Regions from separate parts of the Homo sapiens genome. Here region 1 is linked to region 2. The links come from fine-mapping of genetic effects on gene expression. A gene starts in region 2. The other region holds a variant in brackets. All regions are shown on one strand. Distances are from middle to middle. Region 1 holds the start of SRF (serum response factor). Region 2 holds the start of RRP36 (ribosomal RNA processing 36).

Region 1 (10,695 bases), 150 kb after region 2:
AGTGAAGTAGGTAGAACCAAGCAGAGAGACGGTGCTTAATGCCTGGATCTTGTGTCCTCACCTATCCTCTGCCTCATTCCAGTAACTTCAGCCTGGTTCACCATCCAAAAGAAACGAGTCCTGAACTCCAAAACTGCTCTAGTTCCTTTACTCCTCACCAAACTTCTGAATAATAAAAATAACAGCAGGCTGGACATGGTGGTTCACACCTGTAATCCTAATACTTTGGGAGACTGAGGCAGGAAGATCACTTGGGACCAGGAGTTTGAGACCAGCCTGGCCAACATAGTGAGACCCTGTCTCTACAAAAAATTTAAAAATTAGCCAGGTGTGGCGACATGCACTTGTAGTCCTAACTACTGAGGAGGCTGAGGCAGGAGGATCATGTGAGCCCAGAAGTTTGAGGTGGCAGTGAGCTATGATCACAACACTGCACTCCAGCCTGGGTGATCAAGTGAGACCCTGTCTCAAAAAAATAAAAAAAACAGGCCGGCTGGGCACGGTGGTTCACGCCTGTAATCCCAGTACTTTGGGACCTGAGGTGGGTGGATCCACGAGGTCAGGAGTTTGAGACCAGCCTGGCCAATATGGTGAAACCCTGTCTCTATTAAAAATACAAAAGTTAGCTGGGCGTGGTGGTGCACACCTGTAGTCCCAGCTGCTTGGGAGACTGAGGCGGCAGAATCGGTTGAACCTGGGAGGCAGAGGTTGCAGTGAGCCAAGATTGCACCACTGCACTCTAGCCTGGGCAACAGAGCAAGACTCTGTCTCAAAAAATAATAATAATAAAAGGCCACAGGAACAGTGGCTCATGCCTATAATCTCAGCACTTTAAAAGGCTGAGGTGACAGAAATGCCTGGGCAACATGGCTAGACTACACCTCTACAAAAAATTTAAAACTTAGCTGGGTGTAGGGCCGGGCACCATGGCTCACACCTGTAATCCCAGCACTTTGGGAGGCCAAGGCGGGTGGATCACAAGGTCAAAAGATAAAGACCGTCCTGGCTAACACGGTGAAACCCTGTCTCTACTAAAACAAAAAATTAGCCGGGAGTGGTGGTGGGTGCCTGTAGTGCCAGCTACTCGGGAGGCTGAGGCAGGAGAATGGCGTGAACCTGGGAGGCAGAGCTTGCAGTGAGCCGAGATCGCACCACTGCACTCCAGCCTGGGCGACAGAGTGAGACTCTGTCTCAAAAAAAAAAAAAAAAAAAAAAAGAGAGACCATCCTGGTCAACATGGTCTCTACTAAAAAAAATACAAAATTTAGCTGGGCATGGAGGCACGTGCCTGTAGTCCCAGCTACTCAGGAGGCTGAGGCAGGAGAATCGCTTGAACCTGGGAGGCAGAAGTTAAAATGAGCCGAGATCATGCCACGGTACTCCAGCCTGGAGACAGAGCGAGACTCTGTCTCAAAAAAAAAAAAAAAAATTAGCTGGGGGTAGTGGGGGTGTGCCCATGGTCTCAGCTATTCTGGAGGCTGAGGAGGGAGGATCTCTTGAACCCAGGAGGTTCTCACCACTGCACTCCAGGCTGGGTGACAGAGCAAGACCCTGTCTCAAAAAAAAAAAAAAAAAAAAAAAGAAAAGCTAATGTTTTTTGAAGACTTTATCTGCACTAGTCACTTAATGTGCATTATCTCATTTAATCTCTGCAACTACTCTGTTAGCCAGATGAGATTATTTCCATTTCACAGATTAGGAAACTGAGTCTCAAGGGAAGTCAGGTAGTTTGCCCATGGTTACACAGCTAGTAAGTGAGCCATAGTCACTGGTATACACCATGCATTACATCCTTCAGATGTGTTGAAGGGAAAATTTTTCTAGAGCAGTGTTTTTCAAACTCTGGTTTGCAACCAGCATTAAAAAAGAAAAAAAGGGAAAAAAAGAAACATAATAGGCACTATCAGAGTACGTTGTATCCTTTAAGGGTAATTGTTGTTTTACAAAATTTTGTTATATTTGCTGCATATATATATATATATTGGATAGTGTGTTAGTTAACTGTTGGGTGGTGATACTGCATAGTAATCCCCAAATCTTACTAGCTGACAAGATTTTTTTCTGACTCATGTATCTGCAGGTTGGTGAGGGTTGGCTGATTTTGGCTGTGCTTGGTGCCAGGCTGGAGGTCTGGCTTAGGTCTAGTCTGCTGGCACCCAGAGCATGTTCTTATGCAGTGGCAGAGTGCAAGAGGTCAAGCCAAACTGTGCAAGCACATTTCAAACCACAAGTCTGAGCTGGCACCATGGCATGTGCCTGTAGTCCCAGCTACTTGGGAGGCTGAGGCAGGAGGTTCGCTTTAAGCCCATGAGTTTGAGGCTGTAGTGTGCAATGATTGTTCCTGTGAATAGCCACTACACTCACTCCAACCTGGGCAAAATAGACCCCATCTCTTACACACACACACACTCACGCACACACACACACGTCTATTAACATTTTATTGGCCAAAGCAAGTCACACAGTAAAACCCAACATCAGCACCAGTAGGACATACTGCAAAGTCACACGGCAAGGATGTTGATGTATATAATTCCAACAGAGGGTGTGAAGAGTTGGGAGCAATAATCTAACTGACCACAGGTTGCAATGTAAAAATGATTTCTGACTGTGGGTTGCACCCAGAAATATTTGAAAGGCACTGCTCTGGAAAGTTATTAATCACTAAATCCTCTTCTAACTCTTGTTCTTCCTTGAGCACTCCATAGTGGCTAACATTGTTGGCCATACCTTCCTCTTCAGAGACTCTCCTCCGTCCCCACCTTTTTTTTTTTTTTTTGAGACTATCTTGCTCTGTCACTTAGGCTGGAGTGCAGTGGTGTGATCTCAGCTCACTGCAAGCTCCGCCTCCGGGTTCACGCCATTCTCCTGCCTCAGCCTCCCAAGTGGCTGGGACTACAGGCACCTGCCACCACGCCCGGCTAATTTTTCGTATTTTTAGCAGAGACGGGATTTCACCATGTTAGCCAGGATGGTCTCGATCTCCTGACCTCATGATCCACCCGCCTTGGCCTCCCAAAGTGCTGGGATTACAGGCGTGAGCCACCGCGCCCCCCCGCCCTCCCTCACTTTTTTACACTGTCAACAGTTTCTCTGGCCAGTCCTTCTCCAGCCCTGGCTAAGGCTTTTTTTTTTTTTTTTTTTTTTTGAGACAGAGTCTTGCCCTGTTGCCCAGGCTGGAGTGCAGTGGCACGATCTCGGCTCACTGCAAGCTCCGCCTCCCAGGTTCACGCCATTCTCCTGCCTCAGCCTCCCGAGTAGCTGGGACTATAGGCACCCGCCACCATGCCCAGCTAATTTTTTATACTTTTAGTAGAGACGGGGTTTCATGGTGTTAACCAGGGTGGTCTCGATCTCCTGACCTCATGATCCGCCCGCCTCAGCCTCCCAAAGTGCTGGGATCACAGGAGTTAGCCACCGCGCCCCGCCTAAGGCTTCTTTTTCTCCTGCCATGGCTATGCTCCTGAGACTGTCATTGCCCTTCCTTTCTCTACTTTCTTTCTTTCTTTCTTTCTTTTTTTTTTCTGGAGATAGGGTCTCACTCTGTCACCTAGGCTGGAGTATAGTGGTAGATCATGGCTCATTCCAACCTCAACCTCCCAGGCTCAAGGGATCCTCCCACCTCAGCTTCCGAGTAGCTGGGACTACAGGTGCGTACCACCAAACCCAGCTAATTTTTGTATTTTTCGTAGAGATAGGGTTTTGCCATGTTACCCAGGCTGGTCTCAAATTCCTGAGCTCAAGCGATCCACTTGCCTCAGCCTCCCAAAGTGCTCACAGGCATGAGCCACCACACCCAGCCTATTTTTGCTTAATTTTATTATTATTATTATTATTATTATTATTTTGAAAGAGTGTCTCGCTCTGTCCCCCAGGCTGTAGTGCAATGCCTTGATTTCGGCTCACTGCAACCTCCACCTCCTGAGTTCAAGCGATTCTCCTGCCTCAGACTCCCCAGAAGCTGGGATTATAGGTGCCCGCCACCACACCCAGCTAATTTTTTTTGTATTTTCAGTAGAGACAGGGTTTCACCATATTGGCCAGTGTGGTCTCAAACTCCTGACCTTAAGCGATCCATCCGCCTCAACCTCCCAAAGTGCTGGGATTACAGGCATGAGCCACCGCACCCGGCCTATTTTTGCTTAATTTTAAAAGAAAAATATAAAAGTCATATTGATTGTCAAAGAAGTCACATGGTACAAACTTATATAAAGCAAAAAAACACACCCCTCTCATCCCAAACCTCACTCTCCATAGGTAAGCACTATTAGTGTTTGGAGTGTGGCTTTCCAGACTTTTCCTGGGCACAATGACTCATAAATTCTTTTCCATTACTGCT[A/C]ATGCTGCCATCACAATTGATACCCTCTTTGCCTCTGTGCAAAATTATGAATCCCTGAGTAAAGGTTAATTCCAAATGAAAACAGATTTAGGGTATTTTGACAGTAATTTTTTTTTCTTTTTTGAGACAGGGTTTTCCTCTTACCTAGATTGAGTGCAGTGGTGCCATCATGGCTCACTGCAGCCTGGGCTCAAGCAATCTTCCCACCTCAGCCTCCCTAGTAGCTGGGACTACGACTACAGATGCGTGCCACTGTGCCCCAGCATTTTTTTTTTTTTTTGAGATGAAGTTTCACTCTTTCACCCAGGCTGGAATGAAGTGGCACGATCTTGGCTCACTGCAATCTCTCCCCTCCAGATTCAAGTGATTCTCCTGCCTCAGCCTCCTGAGTAGCTGGGATTATAGGCATACACCACCAGGCCCGGCTAATTTTTGTATTTTTAGGAGAGGTGGGATTTTTGCCATGTTGGCCAGGCTGGTCTTGAACTCCTGACCTCAGGTGATCCACCCTCCTAGGCCTCCCAAAGTGCTAGGATTACAGGCATGACCCACCTTGCCTGCCTGTGTTTTTTTTTTTTAAGAGATGGGGTCTCATTGTGTTGTCCAGGCTGGTGTCAAAACTCCCGGACTCAAATTATCCTCCCACCTTGACCTCAAAAAGTGCTGGGATTTTAGGTGTGAATCACTGCACCCAGCCATGACAGTAATTTTTAAAAGCAATCCTTAATTTTTGTTTGTTATTAGTTAGGTGATAAAAATCAGAAGAAAGAAAGAAAGGTCAGGGTGGAATCTGTGTGGTGTGAGGGATCTGGCTGAAATTCCCATGCACTTACAGAGGCCCTTCATGGTCTGGGGTGGACATGAGCTCCCATCTGTTGCAAGGTGCTACTCTGATCAGGCCTTTTCGGAGGAACATTTCAACTTCACATTTCAGAGCAGCCAGGCAGGAGCTTACCTAGGCTCAGTAGGCTGCGTGGAGTCTATGGTAAAGTGGAGAGCCTCTTCTATGGCCACCATCAGCTCCAGGTTATAATGCTTTTGTGGGTACCTAGGCCCAGTGTTACCAAAAATTCTGATTTTTTTGAGAGAGGTCAGATATTCAGATTTTTTTTTTTTTTTGAAAAGGAGTCTCACTCCGTAGCTCAGGCCGGAGTACAGTGGCCCCATTTAGGCTCACTGCAACCTCTGCCTCCCAGGTTCAAGTGATTCTCCTGCCTCAGCCTCTCGTGTAGCTGGGATTACAGATGTGTGCCACTATGCCCGGCTACTTTTTTATTTTTTTAGTAGAGATGGCGTTTCACCATGTTGGCCAGGCTGGTCTTGAACTCCTGACCTCAAGTGATCCATCCACCTTAGCTTCCCAAAGTGCTGGGATTACAGACATGAGCCACCACGCCCGGCCAGACATTCAGATTTTTATGTAAACTCTTATGATTTTTAAATGTTATAAGGTCCAAATAAAACACCTCTATGAGACAGTTTTTGATTTTGACTTTATCCCTAGCAATACTTTTGGCTCTGGAACCTGCAGTAATCCAATAGTGTGGGTAGAGGTCTCCTCCTGACTCCCTGTGGTGACAAAGGACATGAAGATGGGCCATCCCAAGCAGACAGAGAAGCTGTGACACTAACACTGGTGTGCAATGACCCAGGAGTTGGGAGAAGTTGAAGAGAGGGCAGCCTATTTGAAGGGAAGCTAAGGACTGCGTTCTTCCCAGACACCCTCCCCTATAGATGTGACAGAGAGCAGTTGTCCCTGCTGAGGGATGTCACCCCTGCATGTGTCTAAACTAGGGGGCGCAAATGAAAGGGTCTTTAGAGGGCAGGTGGGAATGAAATCCCAGAGCTTTGGCTGTAATATTATGGTGCTCAGACAAAACATGACCCCAGGCATCATTTGTGGTCCCTAAAACCCTTCTGGAACCTATTTATCTGTTTGACCTGTTCTTCCTCTTGGGCTAACACGTTCCATATGTTTAAGTACCTGTTGTAAAGAGTAAATTAGTGGAGGGAGGGGAGACCTCTTTAAAACTATTGGGGGCTGGGTGCAGTGGCTCAGGCCTTTAATCCCAGCACTTTGGGAGGCCGAGGTGAGAGAATCGCTTGAGCCCAGAAGTTTGAGACCAGCCTGGGCAACATAGGGAGACCTTATCTCTATATGACAAAAAATACACACTATATTTTATTCACTATACACACAAAATACACACTATATTTTACTGATCACTTGCACATATTTTATTTCAGTATTTTTCAAGCTTTTGGATTGTGACTCACAGTAAGAAATGCAGTTAATATTGTCATCCATTACACACATACACTGAATTATGAGAAATTGACAATATCCCACCTTCTTGACCTATAAAATGGCAATTTTGTAGGGTTCAACCTATATATAATGCAAACAAACATTTTATGCAACAATATTTGCCCTTGCTTTTTGTGATACCCATTAATTTATTCTTTTAAATGTTGATTGTAGTATACTGAATTGATATCACTACCACTACCAGTAATGACTAGGTTACAATCAACTGCTTTATTTAATCTCCATAATTTTTCGGGCAGGAATAATCACTGCCTCCCATCCCCTTAAACATGCCAAGATGCTTTATCCCTAGGATGAGGTGACTTACTCCAGGTAACTCCTATTGCCTAACCACTGACCAATTACTCTGCCCTTTAGTCTTTATGTCATTAAATCTGCATTAAGAATTTCATGGAATAGGCCCGGCATGGTGGCTCATGCCTGTAATCCCAGCACCTTGGGAGACCGAGGTGGGAGGATCACTTGAGGTCAGCAGTTCGAGACCAGCCTGGACAACATGGCGAAACCCCATCTCTACTAAAAACACAAAATAACTAGCCAGGTGTGGTGGTGGGCACCTGTAATCCCAGCTATTTGGGAAGCTGAGGCAGCAGGAGAATCGCTTGAACTGGGGAGGCAGAGGTTGCAGTGAGTCGAGATCGTGCCAGTGCACTCCAGCCTGGGCGACAGAGCGAGACTCTGTCTCAAAAAAAAAAAAAAAAAAAACTCAGGGAATGGATAGCAGCATTGATGAATATTGCGTCTGGAGAGATCAGATCACTTGTCACTTGTTTCCAGGCACAGGGCTTACCAAGAGGCAGATTCCAGATTTAAATAATTCTGTAACAGCAAAGTCCAAGCTATTTTCACTGCTTTGGAGAAAAGACCCAGACCCAGAGCTTGAACCTCACTTTGCAGCACCCCAGTTCTAATCTTTTAAGTTTTTTTTTTTTTTTTTTTTTTTTTCTGCTGGGCACGGTGGTTCATGCCTATAATCCCAGCACTTTGGGAAGCCGAGGGGGAAGGATCGCTTGAGGCCAGGAGTTCGAAACCAGTCTGGGCAACATGGCAAAACCCCATCTCTACAAAAAATACAAAAATTAGGCCAGAGTGGTGGCGCGCACCTGTAGTTCCAGCTACGTGAGAGGCGGAGGTGGGAGAATCGCTTGAACCCGGGAGGCAGAGGTTGCAATGAGCTCAGATCCCGCCACTGCACTCCAGGTTGGGCGACAGAGCGATACCCTGTGTGAAACTTTTTTTTTTTTCTCCAACGGGCTTTCCAGAGAAGTGTGTGTATGTGCGTGTGTGTGCGCGAGCGTGCTTGCTTGGGCTTAAACTTTCTGTCGGGCCACACTTTCCCAAGTCTTTGCACTGGCTGTAGGGTGGGCTTTATCCTCGGGACGTCCTCCTCCCCAAGTCCAGCCTGCAGCTGGAAGTCTTCACTGATCTCCATCTCTCCTCCCTGATCTCCGTCTCTCCTCCCTGCCCGCCTCAGGACTGGGAGGCCGATCTCTCTCTCTCGCCCTCCCCTCCACCAGCCTTTTCCAGATGTATGTCTGCCAAAGACCCCCCAGTGCAGAGGATGATGAATGAAGATCCTCGAGCCAGCCCGGTGGGAAAGTTTCGTCGCCTACAAAAGCGAGGGAAAGGGAAGGGAAGTTGGGGGTAGGGGAAAAGTTAGAGCTGAGAGGCTGGGGCGCGACGAGTCTGGACACCGGGCGGGGACCCAAGCTCTCTCCGCTCAGCCAATAACTGTGCCTCCCTTAGGAAGGCGTGAGGAAATGCTCCAATCAATCCCTGCACTCCTCCCTTGGAATTTGGGCTGTATTTTTTTATTTACTGCAAACCCCACAATCCACCCAGGGGTTTCCCCAGTGTTTGCCTCCAGCGGTCCCGGTGCCCATTTACTAGTGCTGCTCCCTCTCTTCCGCAAGACTGCGCTCCAGTCCCAGCCTCCTTCTCCGCGGGTGCCTCCCAAACCGTTCTATCATTCTCGGGTTCAGGGAGGCGGAATCGTGCCTGCTCTCCGGTTCCTTTAAGAGGCGTCGGCTCCACCCCTCTCAGAGTCGCGGTCTGACGCGAGATGACAGCAACGAGTTCGGTATGTCTATGCAAATAAGCGCCCTCTTGTGGGCCAATGGGGAGCGGAGGTGCCGGAACCACGGACCAATGGGGCGGGGGCGCTGGGGCTCACCATATAAGGAGCGGCCTCGCCATAAAAGGAAACATTGTATCTCTTTATATGGGGGGAAGGGTCGGGGGATCCCTCCGCCGCCAGCGCGTGGTCCCGGCCCCCTCCACCCGCCGTCTCGGCCGCGGCCAGCAGCCCCTGCCCCCCGGGGGACGCTGACGGCCGCCCGGCGCGCCGCCCTAGCAGACGGACAGGGGGCGCTGCGCGCGGCCTGGGGCAACCCGGGCCACAGGGGCAGGAAAGTGAGGGCCCAGGTCGGCCCGGGCGTGCAGGGGCCCCGGGTTCGCAGCGGCGGCCGCGGCAGCGATAGCGGCACTAGCAGCAGCGGGAGTGCCGGGTTGAGCCGGGAAGCCGATGGCGGCGGCTGCGGCGGCTCCGATTCCTCGCTGACTGCCCGTCCGCCCTCCTGCATCGAGCGCCATGTTACCGACCCAAGCTGGGGCCGCGGCGGCTCTGGGCCGGGGCTCGGCCCTGGGGGGCAGCCTGAACCGGACCCCGACGGGGCGGCCGGGCGGCGGCGGCGGGACACGCGGGGCTAACGGGGGCCGGGTCCCCGGGAATGGCGCGGGGCTCGGGCCCGGCCGCCTGGAGCGGGAGGCTGCGGCAGCGGCGGCAACCACCCCGGCGCCCACCGCGGGGGCCCTCTACAGCGGCAGCGAGGGCGACTCGGAGTCGGGCGAGGAGGAGGAGCTGGGCGCCGAGCGGCGCGGCCTGAAGCGGAGCCTGAGCGAGATGGAGATCGGTATGGTGGTCGGTGGGCCCGAGGCGTCGGCAGCGGCCACCGGGGGCTACGGGCCGGTGAGCGGCGCGGTGAGCGGGGCCAAGCCGGGTAAGAAGACCCGGGGCCGCGTGAAGATCAAGATGGAGTTCATCGACAACAAGCTGCGGCGCTACACGACCTTCAGCAAGAGGAAGACGGGCATCATGAAGAAGGTACCAAGCCGGGGGGCTGGCCGGCCCCGGGGCCCGGTTGGGGTGGGGATGTGCAAAGGGAGCCCGGGAGGACCGCAGAGCCGAGGCGGAGGTGAGAGGCTGCGAGTCCGCAGGAGGTGTGTGGGAGGGGATGGCTCCTGCCCGGGGAGGGCCGAAGGGGAGGGGCCGCCGGGGAAATGTGGGGAGAGGGGAGATCCCGCGAACGCTCGCAACCGTGGGGAAAGGCGCAGAGGTGGGAGTGACCGGCGCCAGAGAGGAAGAGGGCCCTTGCTGAGTGAAGGGGTGAGGAGCGGTGATGGGAGGCTACGAGGCTGCCGGGGAGGTGGATAATGAGAACCCGGGATCAGTAGGTCCAGTGCACTCCGGTGTTCGGACGAGGGCGCCGGAAAAGCAGGGAGCAAACGAGAAGGTATGGAGGTGAGGAGGCTGGAGCTGCATGACAACAATGAGCGAACATGTGTGGGAGGAAGTGGGCACCACGAGAGTAGTGCTGGTTGGAAGGACAGGCAGGGTTAGGGACCAGGTAAGGGAGCGGGGCAGGAGAACTGGTGCTGCCCTGAGCAGCAGGAACCTAGTCCTGCGCCGGCCGTGAGTCTTCCATGGCATCCACTGGGAACCACATGCTCCTGGCAGGACCCGCTGCAGAATCTCCTGCCGTTAGGACAAGTGGGGTTTCCAGCCCTAGGGAGAATCTATGCTTGGATGGGGTTTGGGGGAAGTCAGGGAGGCTTGCAGAGGTACCTAGGAATTCCTCTTCTGCCAGCCAGTGAAAAGTGTTGAGGAAAGGAGTCATTTTGGGGTGTAGACGATAAGGGAAGAGATGAAAGCAGAGGAACTGGGAGACAAGGAGCTGGATCCTTGGGAACACTGGCTGGTGTTTATTTCTGTCCCATGTAGAAACCAGAGCTGCTTCCAAGGTGGTTT
Region 2 (10,695 bases):
CCATCTCTACTAAAAATACAAAAATTAGCTGGGCATGGTGGCAGGCGCCTGTAATCCCAGCTACTTGGGAGGCTGAGGCAGGAGAATCGCTTGAACCCGGGAGGGAGGCAGAGTTTGCAGTGAGCTGAGATTGCACCATTGCGCTCCAGCCTGGGGGCAAGAGCGAGACTTCATCTAAAAAAAAAAAAAAAAAAAAAGACCATGACTTCTCATGCTGGATCTTTCTCTTGTCCTGCCCAAGGGCATTTTTTGCCTCCCTTCCCCTTTTTTTTTGTTTTGAGACAGAGTCTCGCTCTGTCGCCAGACTGGAGTGCAGTGGTGTGATCTCGGCTCACTCCAACCTCCGCCACCCGAGTGCAAGCAATTCTCCTGCCTCAGCCTCCTGAGTAGCTGGGACTACAGGTGCGCGCCACCGTGCCCAGCTAATTTTTGTATTTTTAGTAGAGACGGGTTTCACCATGTTGGCCAGGATGGTCTCCGTCTCTTGATCTCGTGATCCACCTGCCTCGGCCTCTCAGGGTGCTGGGATTACAGGTGTGAGCCACTGTGCCCAGCCCCTTCCCCTTTGCATTGCACACTCCCACCTCTATCCGCCTTTCAGGAACCCAAGTTGTGGAAGAGCTTGTTCTCTCTTTTCTACTGGAAATGGCTTGTTCTCTACCACAGTAGCAGGGATGGGGAAGTGGCAGGAGGAGAAAACCCCTCCCTCTATCACCATCCCCCAAGCCTAAGCATACACATACCTTTCTGGCTTAAGTCCTGGCAGCATACCAGGCACAGCTGTCAAAGGAACTCCTTGTGCCTGTGGGGGGCCCTGGGTGACCCCAATGACAACAACTCAGCTTGACAGGAGCTCCCTGTGAGGGGCTAACCAACCGCGGTAACATGGAGGTCCCTGTCCTGGATCAGTCCCGCCCTATCTTGGGTAGGGGGATTGTTCCACTCTAAAAGCCTGAAAGCTTTTCTGCTTTGAGGCACTCATGCCAGCTTTCAATGGACTGTTTGAGGCTGGCTGGGCTATTAATAGCTGTGAGTATTTTGAGATCCCTTTCCCCACCTCAAAGAACACAGATTCTTAGAGAGGTGGCAGTAAGCAGAGCAGAGACAAGAGAATATACCGTTTGGGAAGGGGGCTTCAAGTTTGTGCCAAGCCAGGGACAGAGTGGAGCCTCCACGAGTAGGTTGTGACCATGATATGCAGATTCTGAGCTGGCAATCAGGTGGGGGTGGCCCCACCCTTCACTGTTGGAGAACACTGGGCCCAGGCTGCTCCCTGACCTCGGCAGCTCCCTTGGGGCAGGGCCAGCCACCTGAGCTGAGACTAGTGCCCCTGTGGAGGGGTAGTGTGGGAGGGCCCCCAGGGTGACACTTGGAGGCAAAGGCTGGTTCTGGGCAGAGTCACAGTGAGCTGGGCAGAAGCCTCGCCTGAGGATCCCGTGGCCCCAATTTGTGTGCAGATAGCAGAGGCAGCAGGCCGTGCCGGGGGGGCATGTTGCTGTAACCAGTGGCCCAGGGGATGTTACGGTGGACAGTGCACCTGGAGGGCGGGCCCCGCAGGGTGAACCATGCTGCAGTGGCTGTCGGGCATCGGGTATACTCCTTCGGGGGTTACTGCTCTGGTGAAGACTATGAGACACTGCGTCAGATAGATGTGCACATTTTCAATGCAGGTAAGCCAATGCTGGGGCTGTCCCTGGGTCCCCACATCAGGGTGGGAACGGGCTGCTGATGAGGTTTGGCTGTGGTCTCTGGGACCAAGGGGATTGGGGACAAACATCTGGTTTGGGAAAAGTGGACAGCCTGGAGGGAGGTTCCCAGGGCTGAGCAGAGCTGTGCCCACAGTGTCCTTGCGTTGGACAAAGCTGCCCCCGGTGAAGTCTGCCATCCGTGGGCAAGCTCCTGTGGTACCCTACATGCGCTATGGACACTCAACCGTCCTCATCGACGACACAGTCCTCCTTTGGGGCGGGCGGAATGACACCGAAGGGGCCTGCAATGTGCTCTATGCCTTTGACGTCAGTGAGTATGGATCTCAGAGAGGCTATGTCCTTCCAGATGTTGCCTCAGTTGCCCAAGAAAGGTTTGGGTTGGGGGTCTTGGGGAGTAGAGTACCCCAGAGCTGAGGAGGGACTGTCATAGAGGGTGCTTAGTTGAGCCATTTTCTCATCTCCTTCAGATACGCACAAGTGGTTCACACCCCGAGTGTCAGGGACAGTTCCTGGGGCCCGGGATGGACATTCAGCCTGTGTCCTAGGCAAGATCATGTACATTTTTGGGGGCTACGAGCAGCAGGTAGGTCTGGGAATAAAATAAGAGGTTTAGGGTGGGACTGAGAAAGAGGGGAAGGGCAATTTAGGATGGTGAAATGGGAGGCTTTGGCTTGTTTGCAGGTTTTGAGGGGAGGGATGGAGGGTCAGAGAGTGACCATTGGCTCCCTCTTTTCTTCCTCCTTTTCTCTTCCTACTCAGGCGGACTGTTTTTCCAATGACATTCACAAGCTAGATACCAGCACCATGACATGGACTCTTATCTGTACAAAGGTCTGCTCTTTCTTTTTTTTCCCAAATCCCCACCCTCTGTTGAAGCAATGATAGGAAGCTCAGTCAGAGGAGATCCTCTTCCAGTCTTTGTGCTGACCCCTCCACCATCTCTCTGCCTCTGCCCAGGGCAGCCCTGCACGCTGGAGGGACTTCCACTCAGCCACAATGCTGGGAAGTCACATGTATGTCTTTGGGGGCCGTGCCGACCGCTTTGGGCCATTCCATTCCAACAATGAGATTTACTGCAACCGCATTCGAGTCTTTGACACCAGAACTGAGGCTTGGCTGGACTGTCCCCCGACTCCAGTGCTGCCTGAGGGGCGCCGGAGCCACTCGGCCTGTGAGTGTTTGTTACTTCCCTGTGGAGTTCCCTTCCTGCCCTCTTCACACTCCTGACACTTCCTCTCTCCTTCCAGTTGGCTACAATGGGGAGCTGTACATCTTTGGTGGTTATAATGCAAGGCTGAACCGGCACTTCCATGACCTCTGGAAGTTTAATCCTGGTAAAGAGCACTGCATTTAGGGCAGGAACAAGGAGCAATTGAGGTGGGAGGAAAAGAAAATAATCCTGAGGCGGTGAGGGATGGGGGTGGGGAAGATACCTGGACTAGGCAGGTATTGAACTTCCATATAAATTTCTCTTCAGTGTCCTTTACCTGGAAAAAGATTGAACCGAAGGGGAAGGGGCCATGTCCCCGCCGGCGCCAGTGCTGCTGTATTGTTGGTGACAAGATTGTCCTCTTTGGGGGTACCAGGTTAGAAGGAGAGAGGGAAGGGGCTCAGGGAAGTCACTAATGGGAGAGTGGGAGGTATTTGAAAAGGGGGTTTCGTGGGTAGTTTTTGTCCTACTTTCATCTCTCTTTTGATCCCGACAGTCCATCTCCTGAGGAAGGCCTGGGAGATGAATTTGACCTTATAGATCATTCTGACTTACACATTTTGGACTTTAGTAAGTATAGTTATTCCTGAATTGCTCCTGCCATCAAGGTCCCTGTCTTTGGGTGGTGATATCCAGGACTGGATCCTTTCCTCACCTTTGACCATCTCCTTTCCACAACTTCTCCCTTAAAGGCCCTAGTCTGAAGACTCTGTGCAAACTGGCCGTGATTCAGTATAACCTAGACCAGTCCTGTTTGCCTCATGATATCAGGTACAGCGAGTGGTTGGAAGGGAGGGATTGAGTGAGGGTGAGTGAGCAGCACAGGTGTGACCTGATTAGCTTGGTTTCAGTATGGAGGAGACAGACATTTTTGTTCTGCTGGAGATGTAGTGTACTTGTGGGAAATGAGATGGAAGGAGGTGAATTGACAGCCATCATATAAAACTGTCAGCAGAATAAATTATATGAAAAAAAAATACAGCTCGGCAGCATCACTTTCTGAGACCTAAGCTTATACAGTTATTTTTGTGACCATGCTGAGAACAACTGATTAAATCTTAGAACCTAGCTGCAAAGTAAAGACAAGTTTAGGAGCCTCTGGATCACATTGGTTCCAGAAGATCTGGCTGCTTCCCTTTGAATTTCGTTCTTAGGTTCCAATTAACCACCAGATGTTACTTTATGTATAATTTTTCAGGTTCAAATTAACCACCAGATGTTACTTTGTATATAATTTTTCCTGTCTGGGTCATTCTGAGATACTTCGTCTCTTTGTATCAGTTCAGTTTAACTCTTGCTGGCTGGGCATGGTGGCTCATACCTGTAATCCCATCACTTCGGGAGGTTGAGGTGGGCAAATCAGTTGAGGTCAGGAGTTCGAGACCATCCTGGCCACATGGTGAAGCCCTGTCTATACTAAAAATACAAAAATTAGCTGGGCATAGTGGCAGCCACCAGTAGTCCCAGCTACTTGGGAGGTTGAGGCAAGAGAATTGCTTGAACCCGGGAGGCGGGGGTTTCAGTGAGTCAAGATTGTGCCACTGCACCACTGTACTCCAGCCTAGGTGACAGAACAAGACTCAAAAAAAAAATTAATATGGTTGGGTGGGTGGGGAAGGCCTCAGGAAGGATAGGAGTGCTGAGTCAGAGCCTTAAAAGGATGGGAGTTAAGAGCAAAAATGGGTATTCCTGGTGGGGTGAGGCATTCCTGGTGAGGGTAAGGTGGAGGGGCTGCCTGGTTGGCTCTAAGCAAAGCAGGAAAGGCAGGTTGGGATGTTGACTGACATGTATACACAGATCTCAGGTGCCTGGACACTGCAATATACATACATACATAAACATAAACCGGAAATCCATATGAGCTTGGAGGTAGAGGAGTGGGTGGTGTTGGATTTGGTGGTGGGTGGGTTCTGATTGTTCAACCTAGTAGGTCTCTTAAGTAAGAGGTGGCTGTGGGTGGTTGACCTTTAGGAAGTTGGAGAGACTGGTGTGTTTTTAGCTTGGTTCAAACATCCCTTAGCTTGGGCTGAGGGCCCCCTCTTCTTTCTGTCTCTTATTGTTGGCCTTCCAGGTGGGAGCTGAATGCCATGACCACCAACAGCAATATCAGTCGCCCCATCGTCTCCTCCCATGGGTAGGAGGAAGTTTCTGCCACCTCCCCTCCTGAGCCTGCTGTCATCTTCACTGCCCCTGCCCATCTGTCACCCACCTGCTCCTTTGACCCCTGGACTTGGTATACCTCCATGTGGAGTTGTTGGGCGAGAGGTGTTCTCTGTGCTGTGAATTCAGTGGGGAGCTGTAGCGGGGTGGGGGCTAGGTTCCTCCCCCCTTGGGCCGAGGGCCCCTTCCCCTTGGTGCTCTGTCCCCATCCACCTCCTTTCAGCTGCTCCTGGGCCTCAGCTCTGCCCAGGGCCAGCCAGGTTCTGCTGGGAAGGGAAGGGAATGGGGAGAAGGGAGAAGCAAGCAGTGTCTGAGCCTCAGGAGCTTCCCCCTCCCCCTTTGCCTATCCCCTCCCCTCTGCTTGAGCCTTGAGCCTTGACTGGGAGCTGAAAGGAGTTGCAGCTGTTGGCATGAGACCTCCTTCTCCCCGTCTTGGGGAGGTGGGGACCAGCAGATAAATCCCACCCTTCCTTGAGCTGTCGCTGTACTCTGAAGTTCAGCCAGCTCAGATTTTATAAAAATTAATTAAAATCTCCAAACGTGTTGTGTGTTTTTGTGGAATATGGTGGAGAAGGCTGGAGTTTGCAGTGGGGGCAGGGTGCCGAGGACAAGCACCCTGAGGTTCTGGCTTCTCAGCCAAGGGTATTAGGAAACCAAATGCCACCAAGGCCTGGTCCAAGCTTCTCGGGCGTGGAACCCAGCACCCTGCGACTCGGGCAGAAGGTTGCGACAATGTCTCCAGAGCGGGTTATCCTTTGGGCCCGGCTCCCTGGCCCTCGACCGCGCAGTTTTCTGCCCATTCGTCACCACGTTGAGACCGGGAACGCCGGAAGAGGCGGGGCAGGGGCTGCCGTGAGCGGAAGCGGCGCCATTCGTCTTCCGAGCGCTACTGCCAGCTGATGCCGGGAGCTAACTACCGCGCCGGGGCCGGGGCCGGGGCCGGGGCCCGACGTCCCCGCGGGGCCCGGGACCGCGAGGAGGACGGCGGGGGCCTGGAGCCCGCGGCCGTGGCCCGCGACCTATTGAGGGGTGAGGGCATGGGGCAGGGCGGGCTGGGGAGGGGAAGGAGATTCCCAGGCGGGGCCCTGAGCCTGCAGAGACGGTGCCGGTAAGACTGCCAAGTTCTCTAAGAGGCAGACGCTACACTAGGGGTGCCCCCAGTGCAGTGGAAAGTGGGGGGTGAGAGTAGATGCTTCCGGGATTAGGACATCCTGAGAAGTTTCTTCACGGCAGGATGAGGGTTTTCGGCGATGGGGAACGTATGTGCAATAGCATGGAGGCAGGAAAAGGCATGCATGGCTGCTGAAGGCTTAGTAGATCAGAATTCAGCAGATTCCGTAGACTTTGTTTTTTTAATTTTTTTTTTTTGAGACGGAGTCTCTCTCTGTCGCCAAGGCTGGAGTGCAGTGGCGCGATGTCGGCAAGCTCCGCCTCCCGGGTTCACGCCATTCTGCTGCCTCAGCCTCCAGAGCAGCTGGGACTACAGGCGCCCGCCACCACGCCCGGCTAATTTTTTGTATTTTTAGTAGAGACGGGGTCTCACCTTGTTAGCCAGGATGGTCTCGATCTCCTGACCTCGTGATCCGCCCGCCTCAGCCTCCCAAAGTGCTGGGATTCCAGGCGTGAGCCACTGCGCCCAGCCTGTTTTTTAAATTTTTTATATTTTTTATTTTTTTGAGACAAAGTCTCGCCCTGTAGCCCAGGCTGGAGTGTAGTTGCACCATGACGGCTCACTGCGGCCTCGAACTCCCGGGCCCAAGAGATCCTCCTACCTCAGCCTTTCGAGTAGCTGGGACTGCAGGCGCGTCACCACGCCTGCACGGATGGGTTTGTTTATTTATTTATTTATTTATTTAATGTAGAAACAAGGTCTCACCTTTTTTTTTTTTTTTTTTTTGACGGCGTCTCGCTCTGTTGCCCATGCTGGAGTGCAGTAGCGCGATCTCAGCTCACTGCAAGCTCCGCCTCCCGTGTTTACGCCATTCTCCTGCCTCAGCCTCCCGAGTAGTGGGACTACAGGCGCCCGCCACCACGCCCGGCTAATTTTTTGTATTTTTAGTAGAGATGGGGTTTCACCGTGTTAGCCAGGATGGTCTCTATCTCCTGACCTCGTGATCCGCCCGCCTCGGCCTCCCAAAGTGCTGGGATTACAGGCGTGAGCCACCTCGCCCAGCCAGGTCTCATCATGTTACCAGGTGCCAGGGCTGGTCTCCAGTTCCTGGGCTCAAGTGATCCACCCGCCTCAGCCTCCCAAGGATTACAGGATTACTGTGCCCAGCAAATGCTGCAGGCTTTTTGTTAAGGCACAGTTCTAGCTGCTGGAGATAGTTGTGAATAAAGTAGTCAAACACTCCTATCCTGGCCGGGTGTGGTGGATCACACCTGTAATCCCAGCACCAGGGGAGACTGAAGCAGGAGGATCGCTTGAGCCCAGGAGTTCAAGACCAGCCTGGTAAACATAATGAGACCCGCTTTTCTACTAAAAATAAAAAAATTTAGCCAGGGTGGTGGCCCACGTCTGTATTCCCAGCCACTGAGGAGGCTGAGGCATGAGGATAGTTTGAGCCCAGGAGGTCGAGGCTGCAGTGAGCAGTGATTAGGCCACTGCACTCCAGCCTGGGCAACAGAGCAAGACCTTTTTTCAAAATAAATAAAATTTAAGTCCAGGTGTGGCTCATGCCTGTAATCCCAGCACTTTGGGAGGCCGAGGTGGGCGGATCACAAGGTCAGGAGATCAAGACCATCTGGGCCAACATGGTGAAACTCGTCCTTATTAAAAATACAATAATCAGCTGGACTTGGTGGTGCGTGCCTTAGTCCCAGCTACTGAGGAGGCTGAGGCAGGAGAATCGCTTGAACCTGGGAGGCGGAGGTTGCAGTGAGCCGAGATCGCGCCACTGCACTCCAGCCTCGTGACAGAGTGAGTCCAGCTCAAAATAAATAAGTAAAATTTAAGGGAGACAAGTAAATTATTACATTAAAAGGCAATAAAACACTGAATTGTAGACTAGAGAACTGGATTTTGTGGAATATGAATTATAGCTCAATTTTTTTTAAGGTGATAGAGGATATGGAGAAAAAATAAAGCTTAGGAGAGGTTGCATTTTTTTTTTTTTTCCGAGATGGAGTCTCGCTCTGTCACCCAGGCTGGAGTGCAGTGACGTGATCTCGGCTCACTGCATCCTCTGCCTCCCAGGTTCAAGCTCTTCTCCCGCCTCAGCCTCCCGAGTAGCTGGGATTACAGGCACCTGCCATCATGCCCAGCTAATTTTTGTATTTTTGTAGAGACGGTTTCACCATGTTGACCGGGCTGGTCTTAAACTCCTGACCTCAGGTGATTGATCTGCCTCAGCCTCCCAAAGTGCTGGGATTACAGGCGTGAGCCACCACACCTGGACGAGGGGTCGCAATTTTAAATAACTTAGAGAAGACCTCTTTGGGAAGGTGATTTTGAATAAAGGCTTGAAGGAACTGAGGGAGGAGCTGTACCTATGTACAGTTTCTGGGGGAAGTGTACCAAGCAGAGGCAACATGTGCAGAGGAACTGAGGTGGGAATATGCTGCTAGGAGACACATTGAGAGGAGTGAGAAGGAGATGAGTAGAGTAGAGATATGACAGGGGCCAGGTCACTTGGGGGCTTGCAGGCCATTATTAAGGTACATGGCTTTTACTGTGAGCAAGATGGAAGCCATTGGGGACTTTTGCCTGTAGGAGTAACATGATCTGAAGTTTATGTGTGGGAGTGATAAGATCTGATTTTATTTTCGATGCCTCTCTCAGGCTGAATTGAGGCGCATAGCTTTGAGAGGAGTGAGGCTGGTGGTTGGGAGACTAGGAGGCTAGAGCACTGATTGAGGTGAGAGATGCTGAGCATGTGGACCAGGACACTGGCAATGGTAACTGAGCAAGGGAGGCAGATGCCCTTCTGGGGAAACCTGTGAATGAGTAAAAGAGAGAGTAAAAGAATGAGTAAAAGAGAAAAAGAAGGGACTATGGTTTGGTGCACCTTTGACCTTACATATACACCTTCCTTAGCAAGATGAGGCCCCAGGTTGCTGAAATAGTTGGAGAGTTTAACACTATCACAGCCTCTGCTGCCTAGGACTTCTAATAATGATTGGTCTGATGGGGTATTAGGATTAGCTAGCTAAGGAATGGGGATGGGAAGATGTCTTTTCTGCAGTGGGACATGCTGAGCTGAGTTGTATGTCCCTCCCCACTTCCACAGGCACATCTAACATGTCATTTGAGGAGCTGTTGGAATTGCAGAGCCAAGTGGGGACTAAGACGTACAAACAATTGGTAGCTGGAAATAGTCCTAAGAAACAAGCTTCTAGACCACCTATCCAAAATGCATGTGTTGCAGATAAGCACAGGTAAGCAAGGCTTGCCCTAGAAGTTGGAAGATAACTGGGACCTTGAATAGGTATGTTGTCTTGGGTGACAGGTGGGAAGCCTTTGACCAACACTGGAGTCCTCTTGACTTGGCTTTTAATTTCTCCATAGGCCTCTGGAAATGTCAGCCAAGATCCGAGTACCATTTTTACGTCAGGTTGTTCCCATTAGTAAAAAGGTAAGGAAGAAGGCCAGGCACTGTGGCTCACGCCTGTAATCCCAGCACTTTGGGAGCCCGAGGTGGGCGATCACCTGAGATCAGGAGTTCCAAGACCAGCATGGCCAACATGGTGAAACCCTGTCTCTACTAAAAATACAAAAATTAGCTGGGCATGGTGGTGTGTGCCTGTAGTCCCAGCTGCTTGGAAAACTGAGGCACAAGAATCGCTTGAACCTGGGAGGTGAAGGTTGCAGTGAGCCAGGATCATGCCACTGCCCTACAGCCTGTGGGACAGAGTAAGACTCTGTCTCAAAAAAAAAAAAAAAAAAAAAAATAGAGGCCGGGCGCAGTGGCTCATGTCTGTAATCCCAGCACTTTGGAAGGCCAAGGTGGGCGAATCACGAGGTCAGGAGATTGAGACCATCCTAGCTAACACAGTGAAACCCCGTCTCTACTAAAAATACAAAAAAAAATAGCCGGGCGTGGTGGCGGGTGCCTGTAGTCCTAGCTACTCAGGAGGCTGAGGCAGGAGAATGGTGTGAACTTGGGAGGCACAGCTTGCAGTGAGCCGAGATTGCACCACTGCACTCCAGCCTGGGCGACAGAGCGAGACTGTGTCTCAAAAAGCAAAAAAAAAGAAAGATGAGGAAGAGACAGGAAGCACTTTTTCTCAGTGAAAGGAGATTGAACAGTTGTGTTTTATATTCTCTCTCTTCTCTCCAAAGGTAGCCCGGGACCCTCGCTTTGATGATCTGTCAGGGGAATATAATCCTGAGGTGTTTGACAAAACATACCAATTCTTGAATGACATCCGAGCGAAAGAGAAAGAGGTATACAGCTTGAGACTGGTTTATGGGGAATTTTGTGGGGTGGAAAATGAGGGCACAGGTTAGAGAGTTGGGCAGGGGGAGTGGGAAGTATAGTGGTGGGCAGATTTAACTCTCTCCAATTCAGTTCATATTCAAATCCTGGCTCATCAGTTTACTAGCTGTGTGATTATTGGCATGTTACTTAATCTCTCTATGCTTTAGTTTTCTAATCATAAAAAAATAAAATAATA

Evidence for each region.
Region 1: its variant is fine-mapped to the expression of RRP36 in whole blood (INTERVAL, PIP 0.97).

What each region holds. Positions count from the first base shown.
Region 1 is chr6:43,162,399-43,173,093 of GRCh38, forward strand. SRF (serum response factor) reads left to right here and starts at 8,871. Exons shown (of 7, transcript NM_003131.4): 1 at 8,871-9,771. The coding sequence starts at 9,259. RefSeq lists enhancers at 8,075-8,804, 9,831-10,695, 10,090-10,299 and a silencer at 8,780-9,359. The variant A/C (reference allele first, on the strand shown) is at 4,340.
Region 2 is chr6:43,015,677-43,026,371 of GRCh38, forward strand. It overlaps RRP36 (ribosomal RNA processing 36), which reads left to right and starts at 5,947. Exons shown (of 7, transcript NM_033112.4): 1 at 5,947-6,108; 2 at 9,309-9,456; 3 at 9,587-9,653; 4 at 10,361-10,465. The coding sequence starts at 5,979. It overlaps KLHDC3 (kelch domain containing 3), which reads left to right. Exons shown (of 11, transcript NM_057161.4): 2 at 1,458-1,670; 3 at 1,843-2,019; 4 at 2,177-2,292; 5 at 2,469-2,540; 6 at 2,667-2,880; 7 at 2,957-3,043; 8 at 3,187-3,295; 9 at 3,416-3,489; 10 at 3,612-3,690; 11 at 4,991-5,618. The coding sequence starts at 1,517. The coding sequence ends at 5,057. It also overlaps a transcript of MEA1 not described here. RefSeq lists enhancers at 5,499-6,230, 5,629-5,738, 5,799-5,848, 6,231-6,962 and silencers at 5,939-6,008, 6,019-6,068, 6,079-6,148.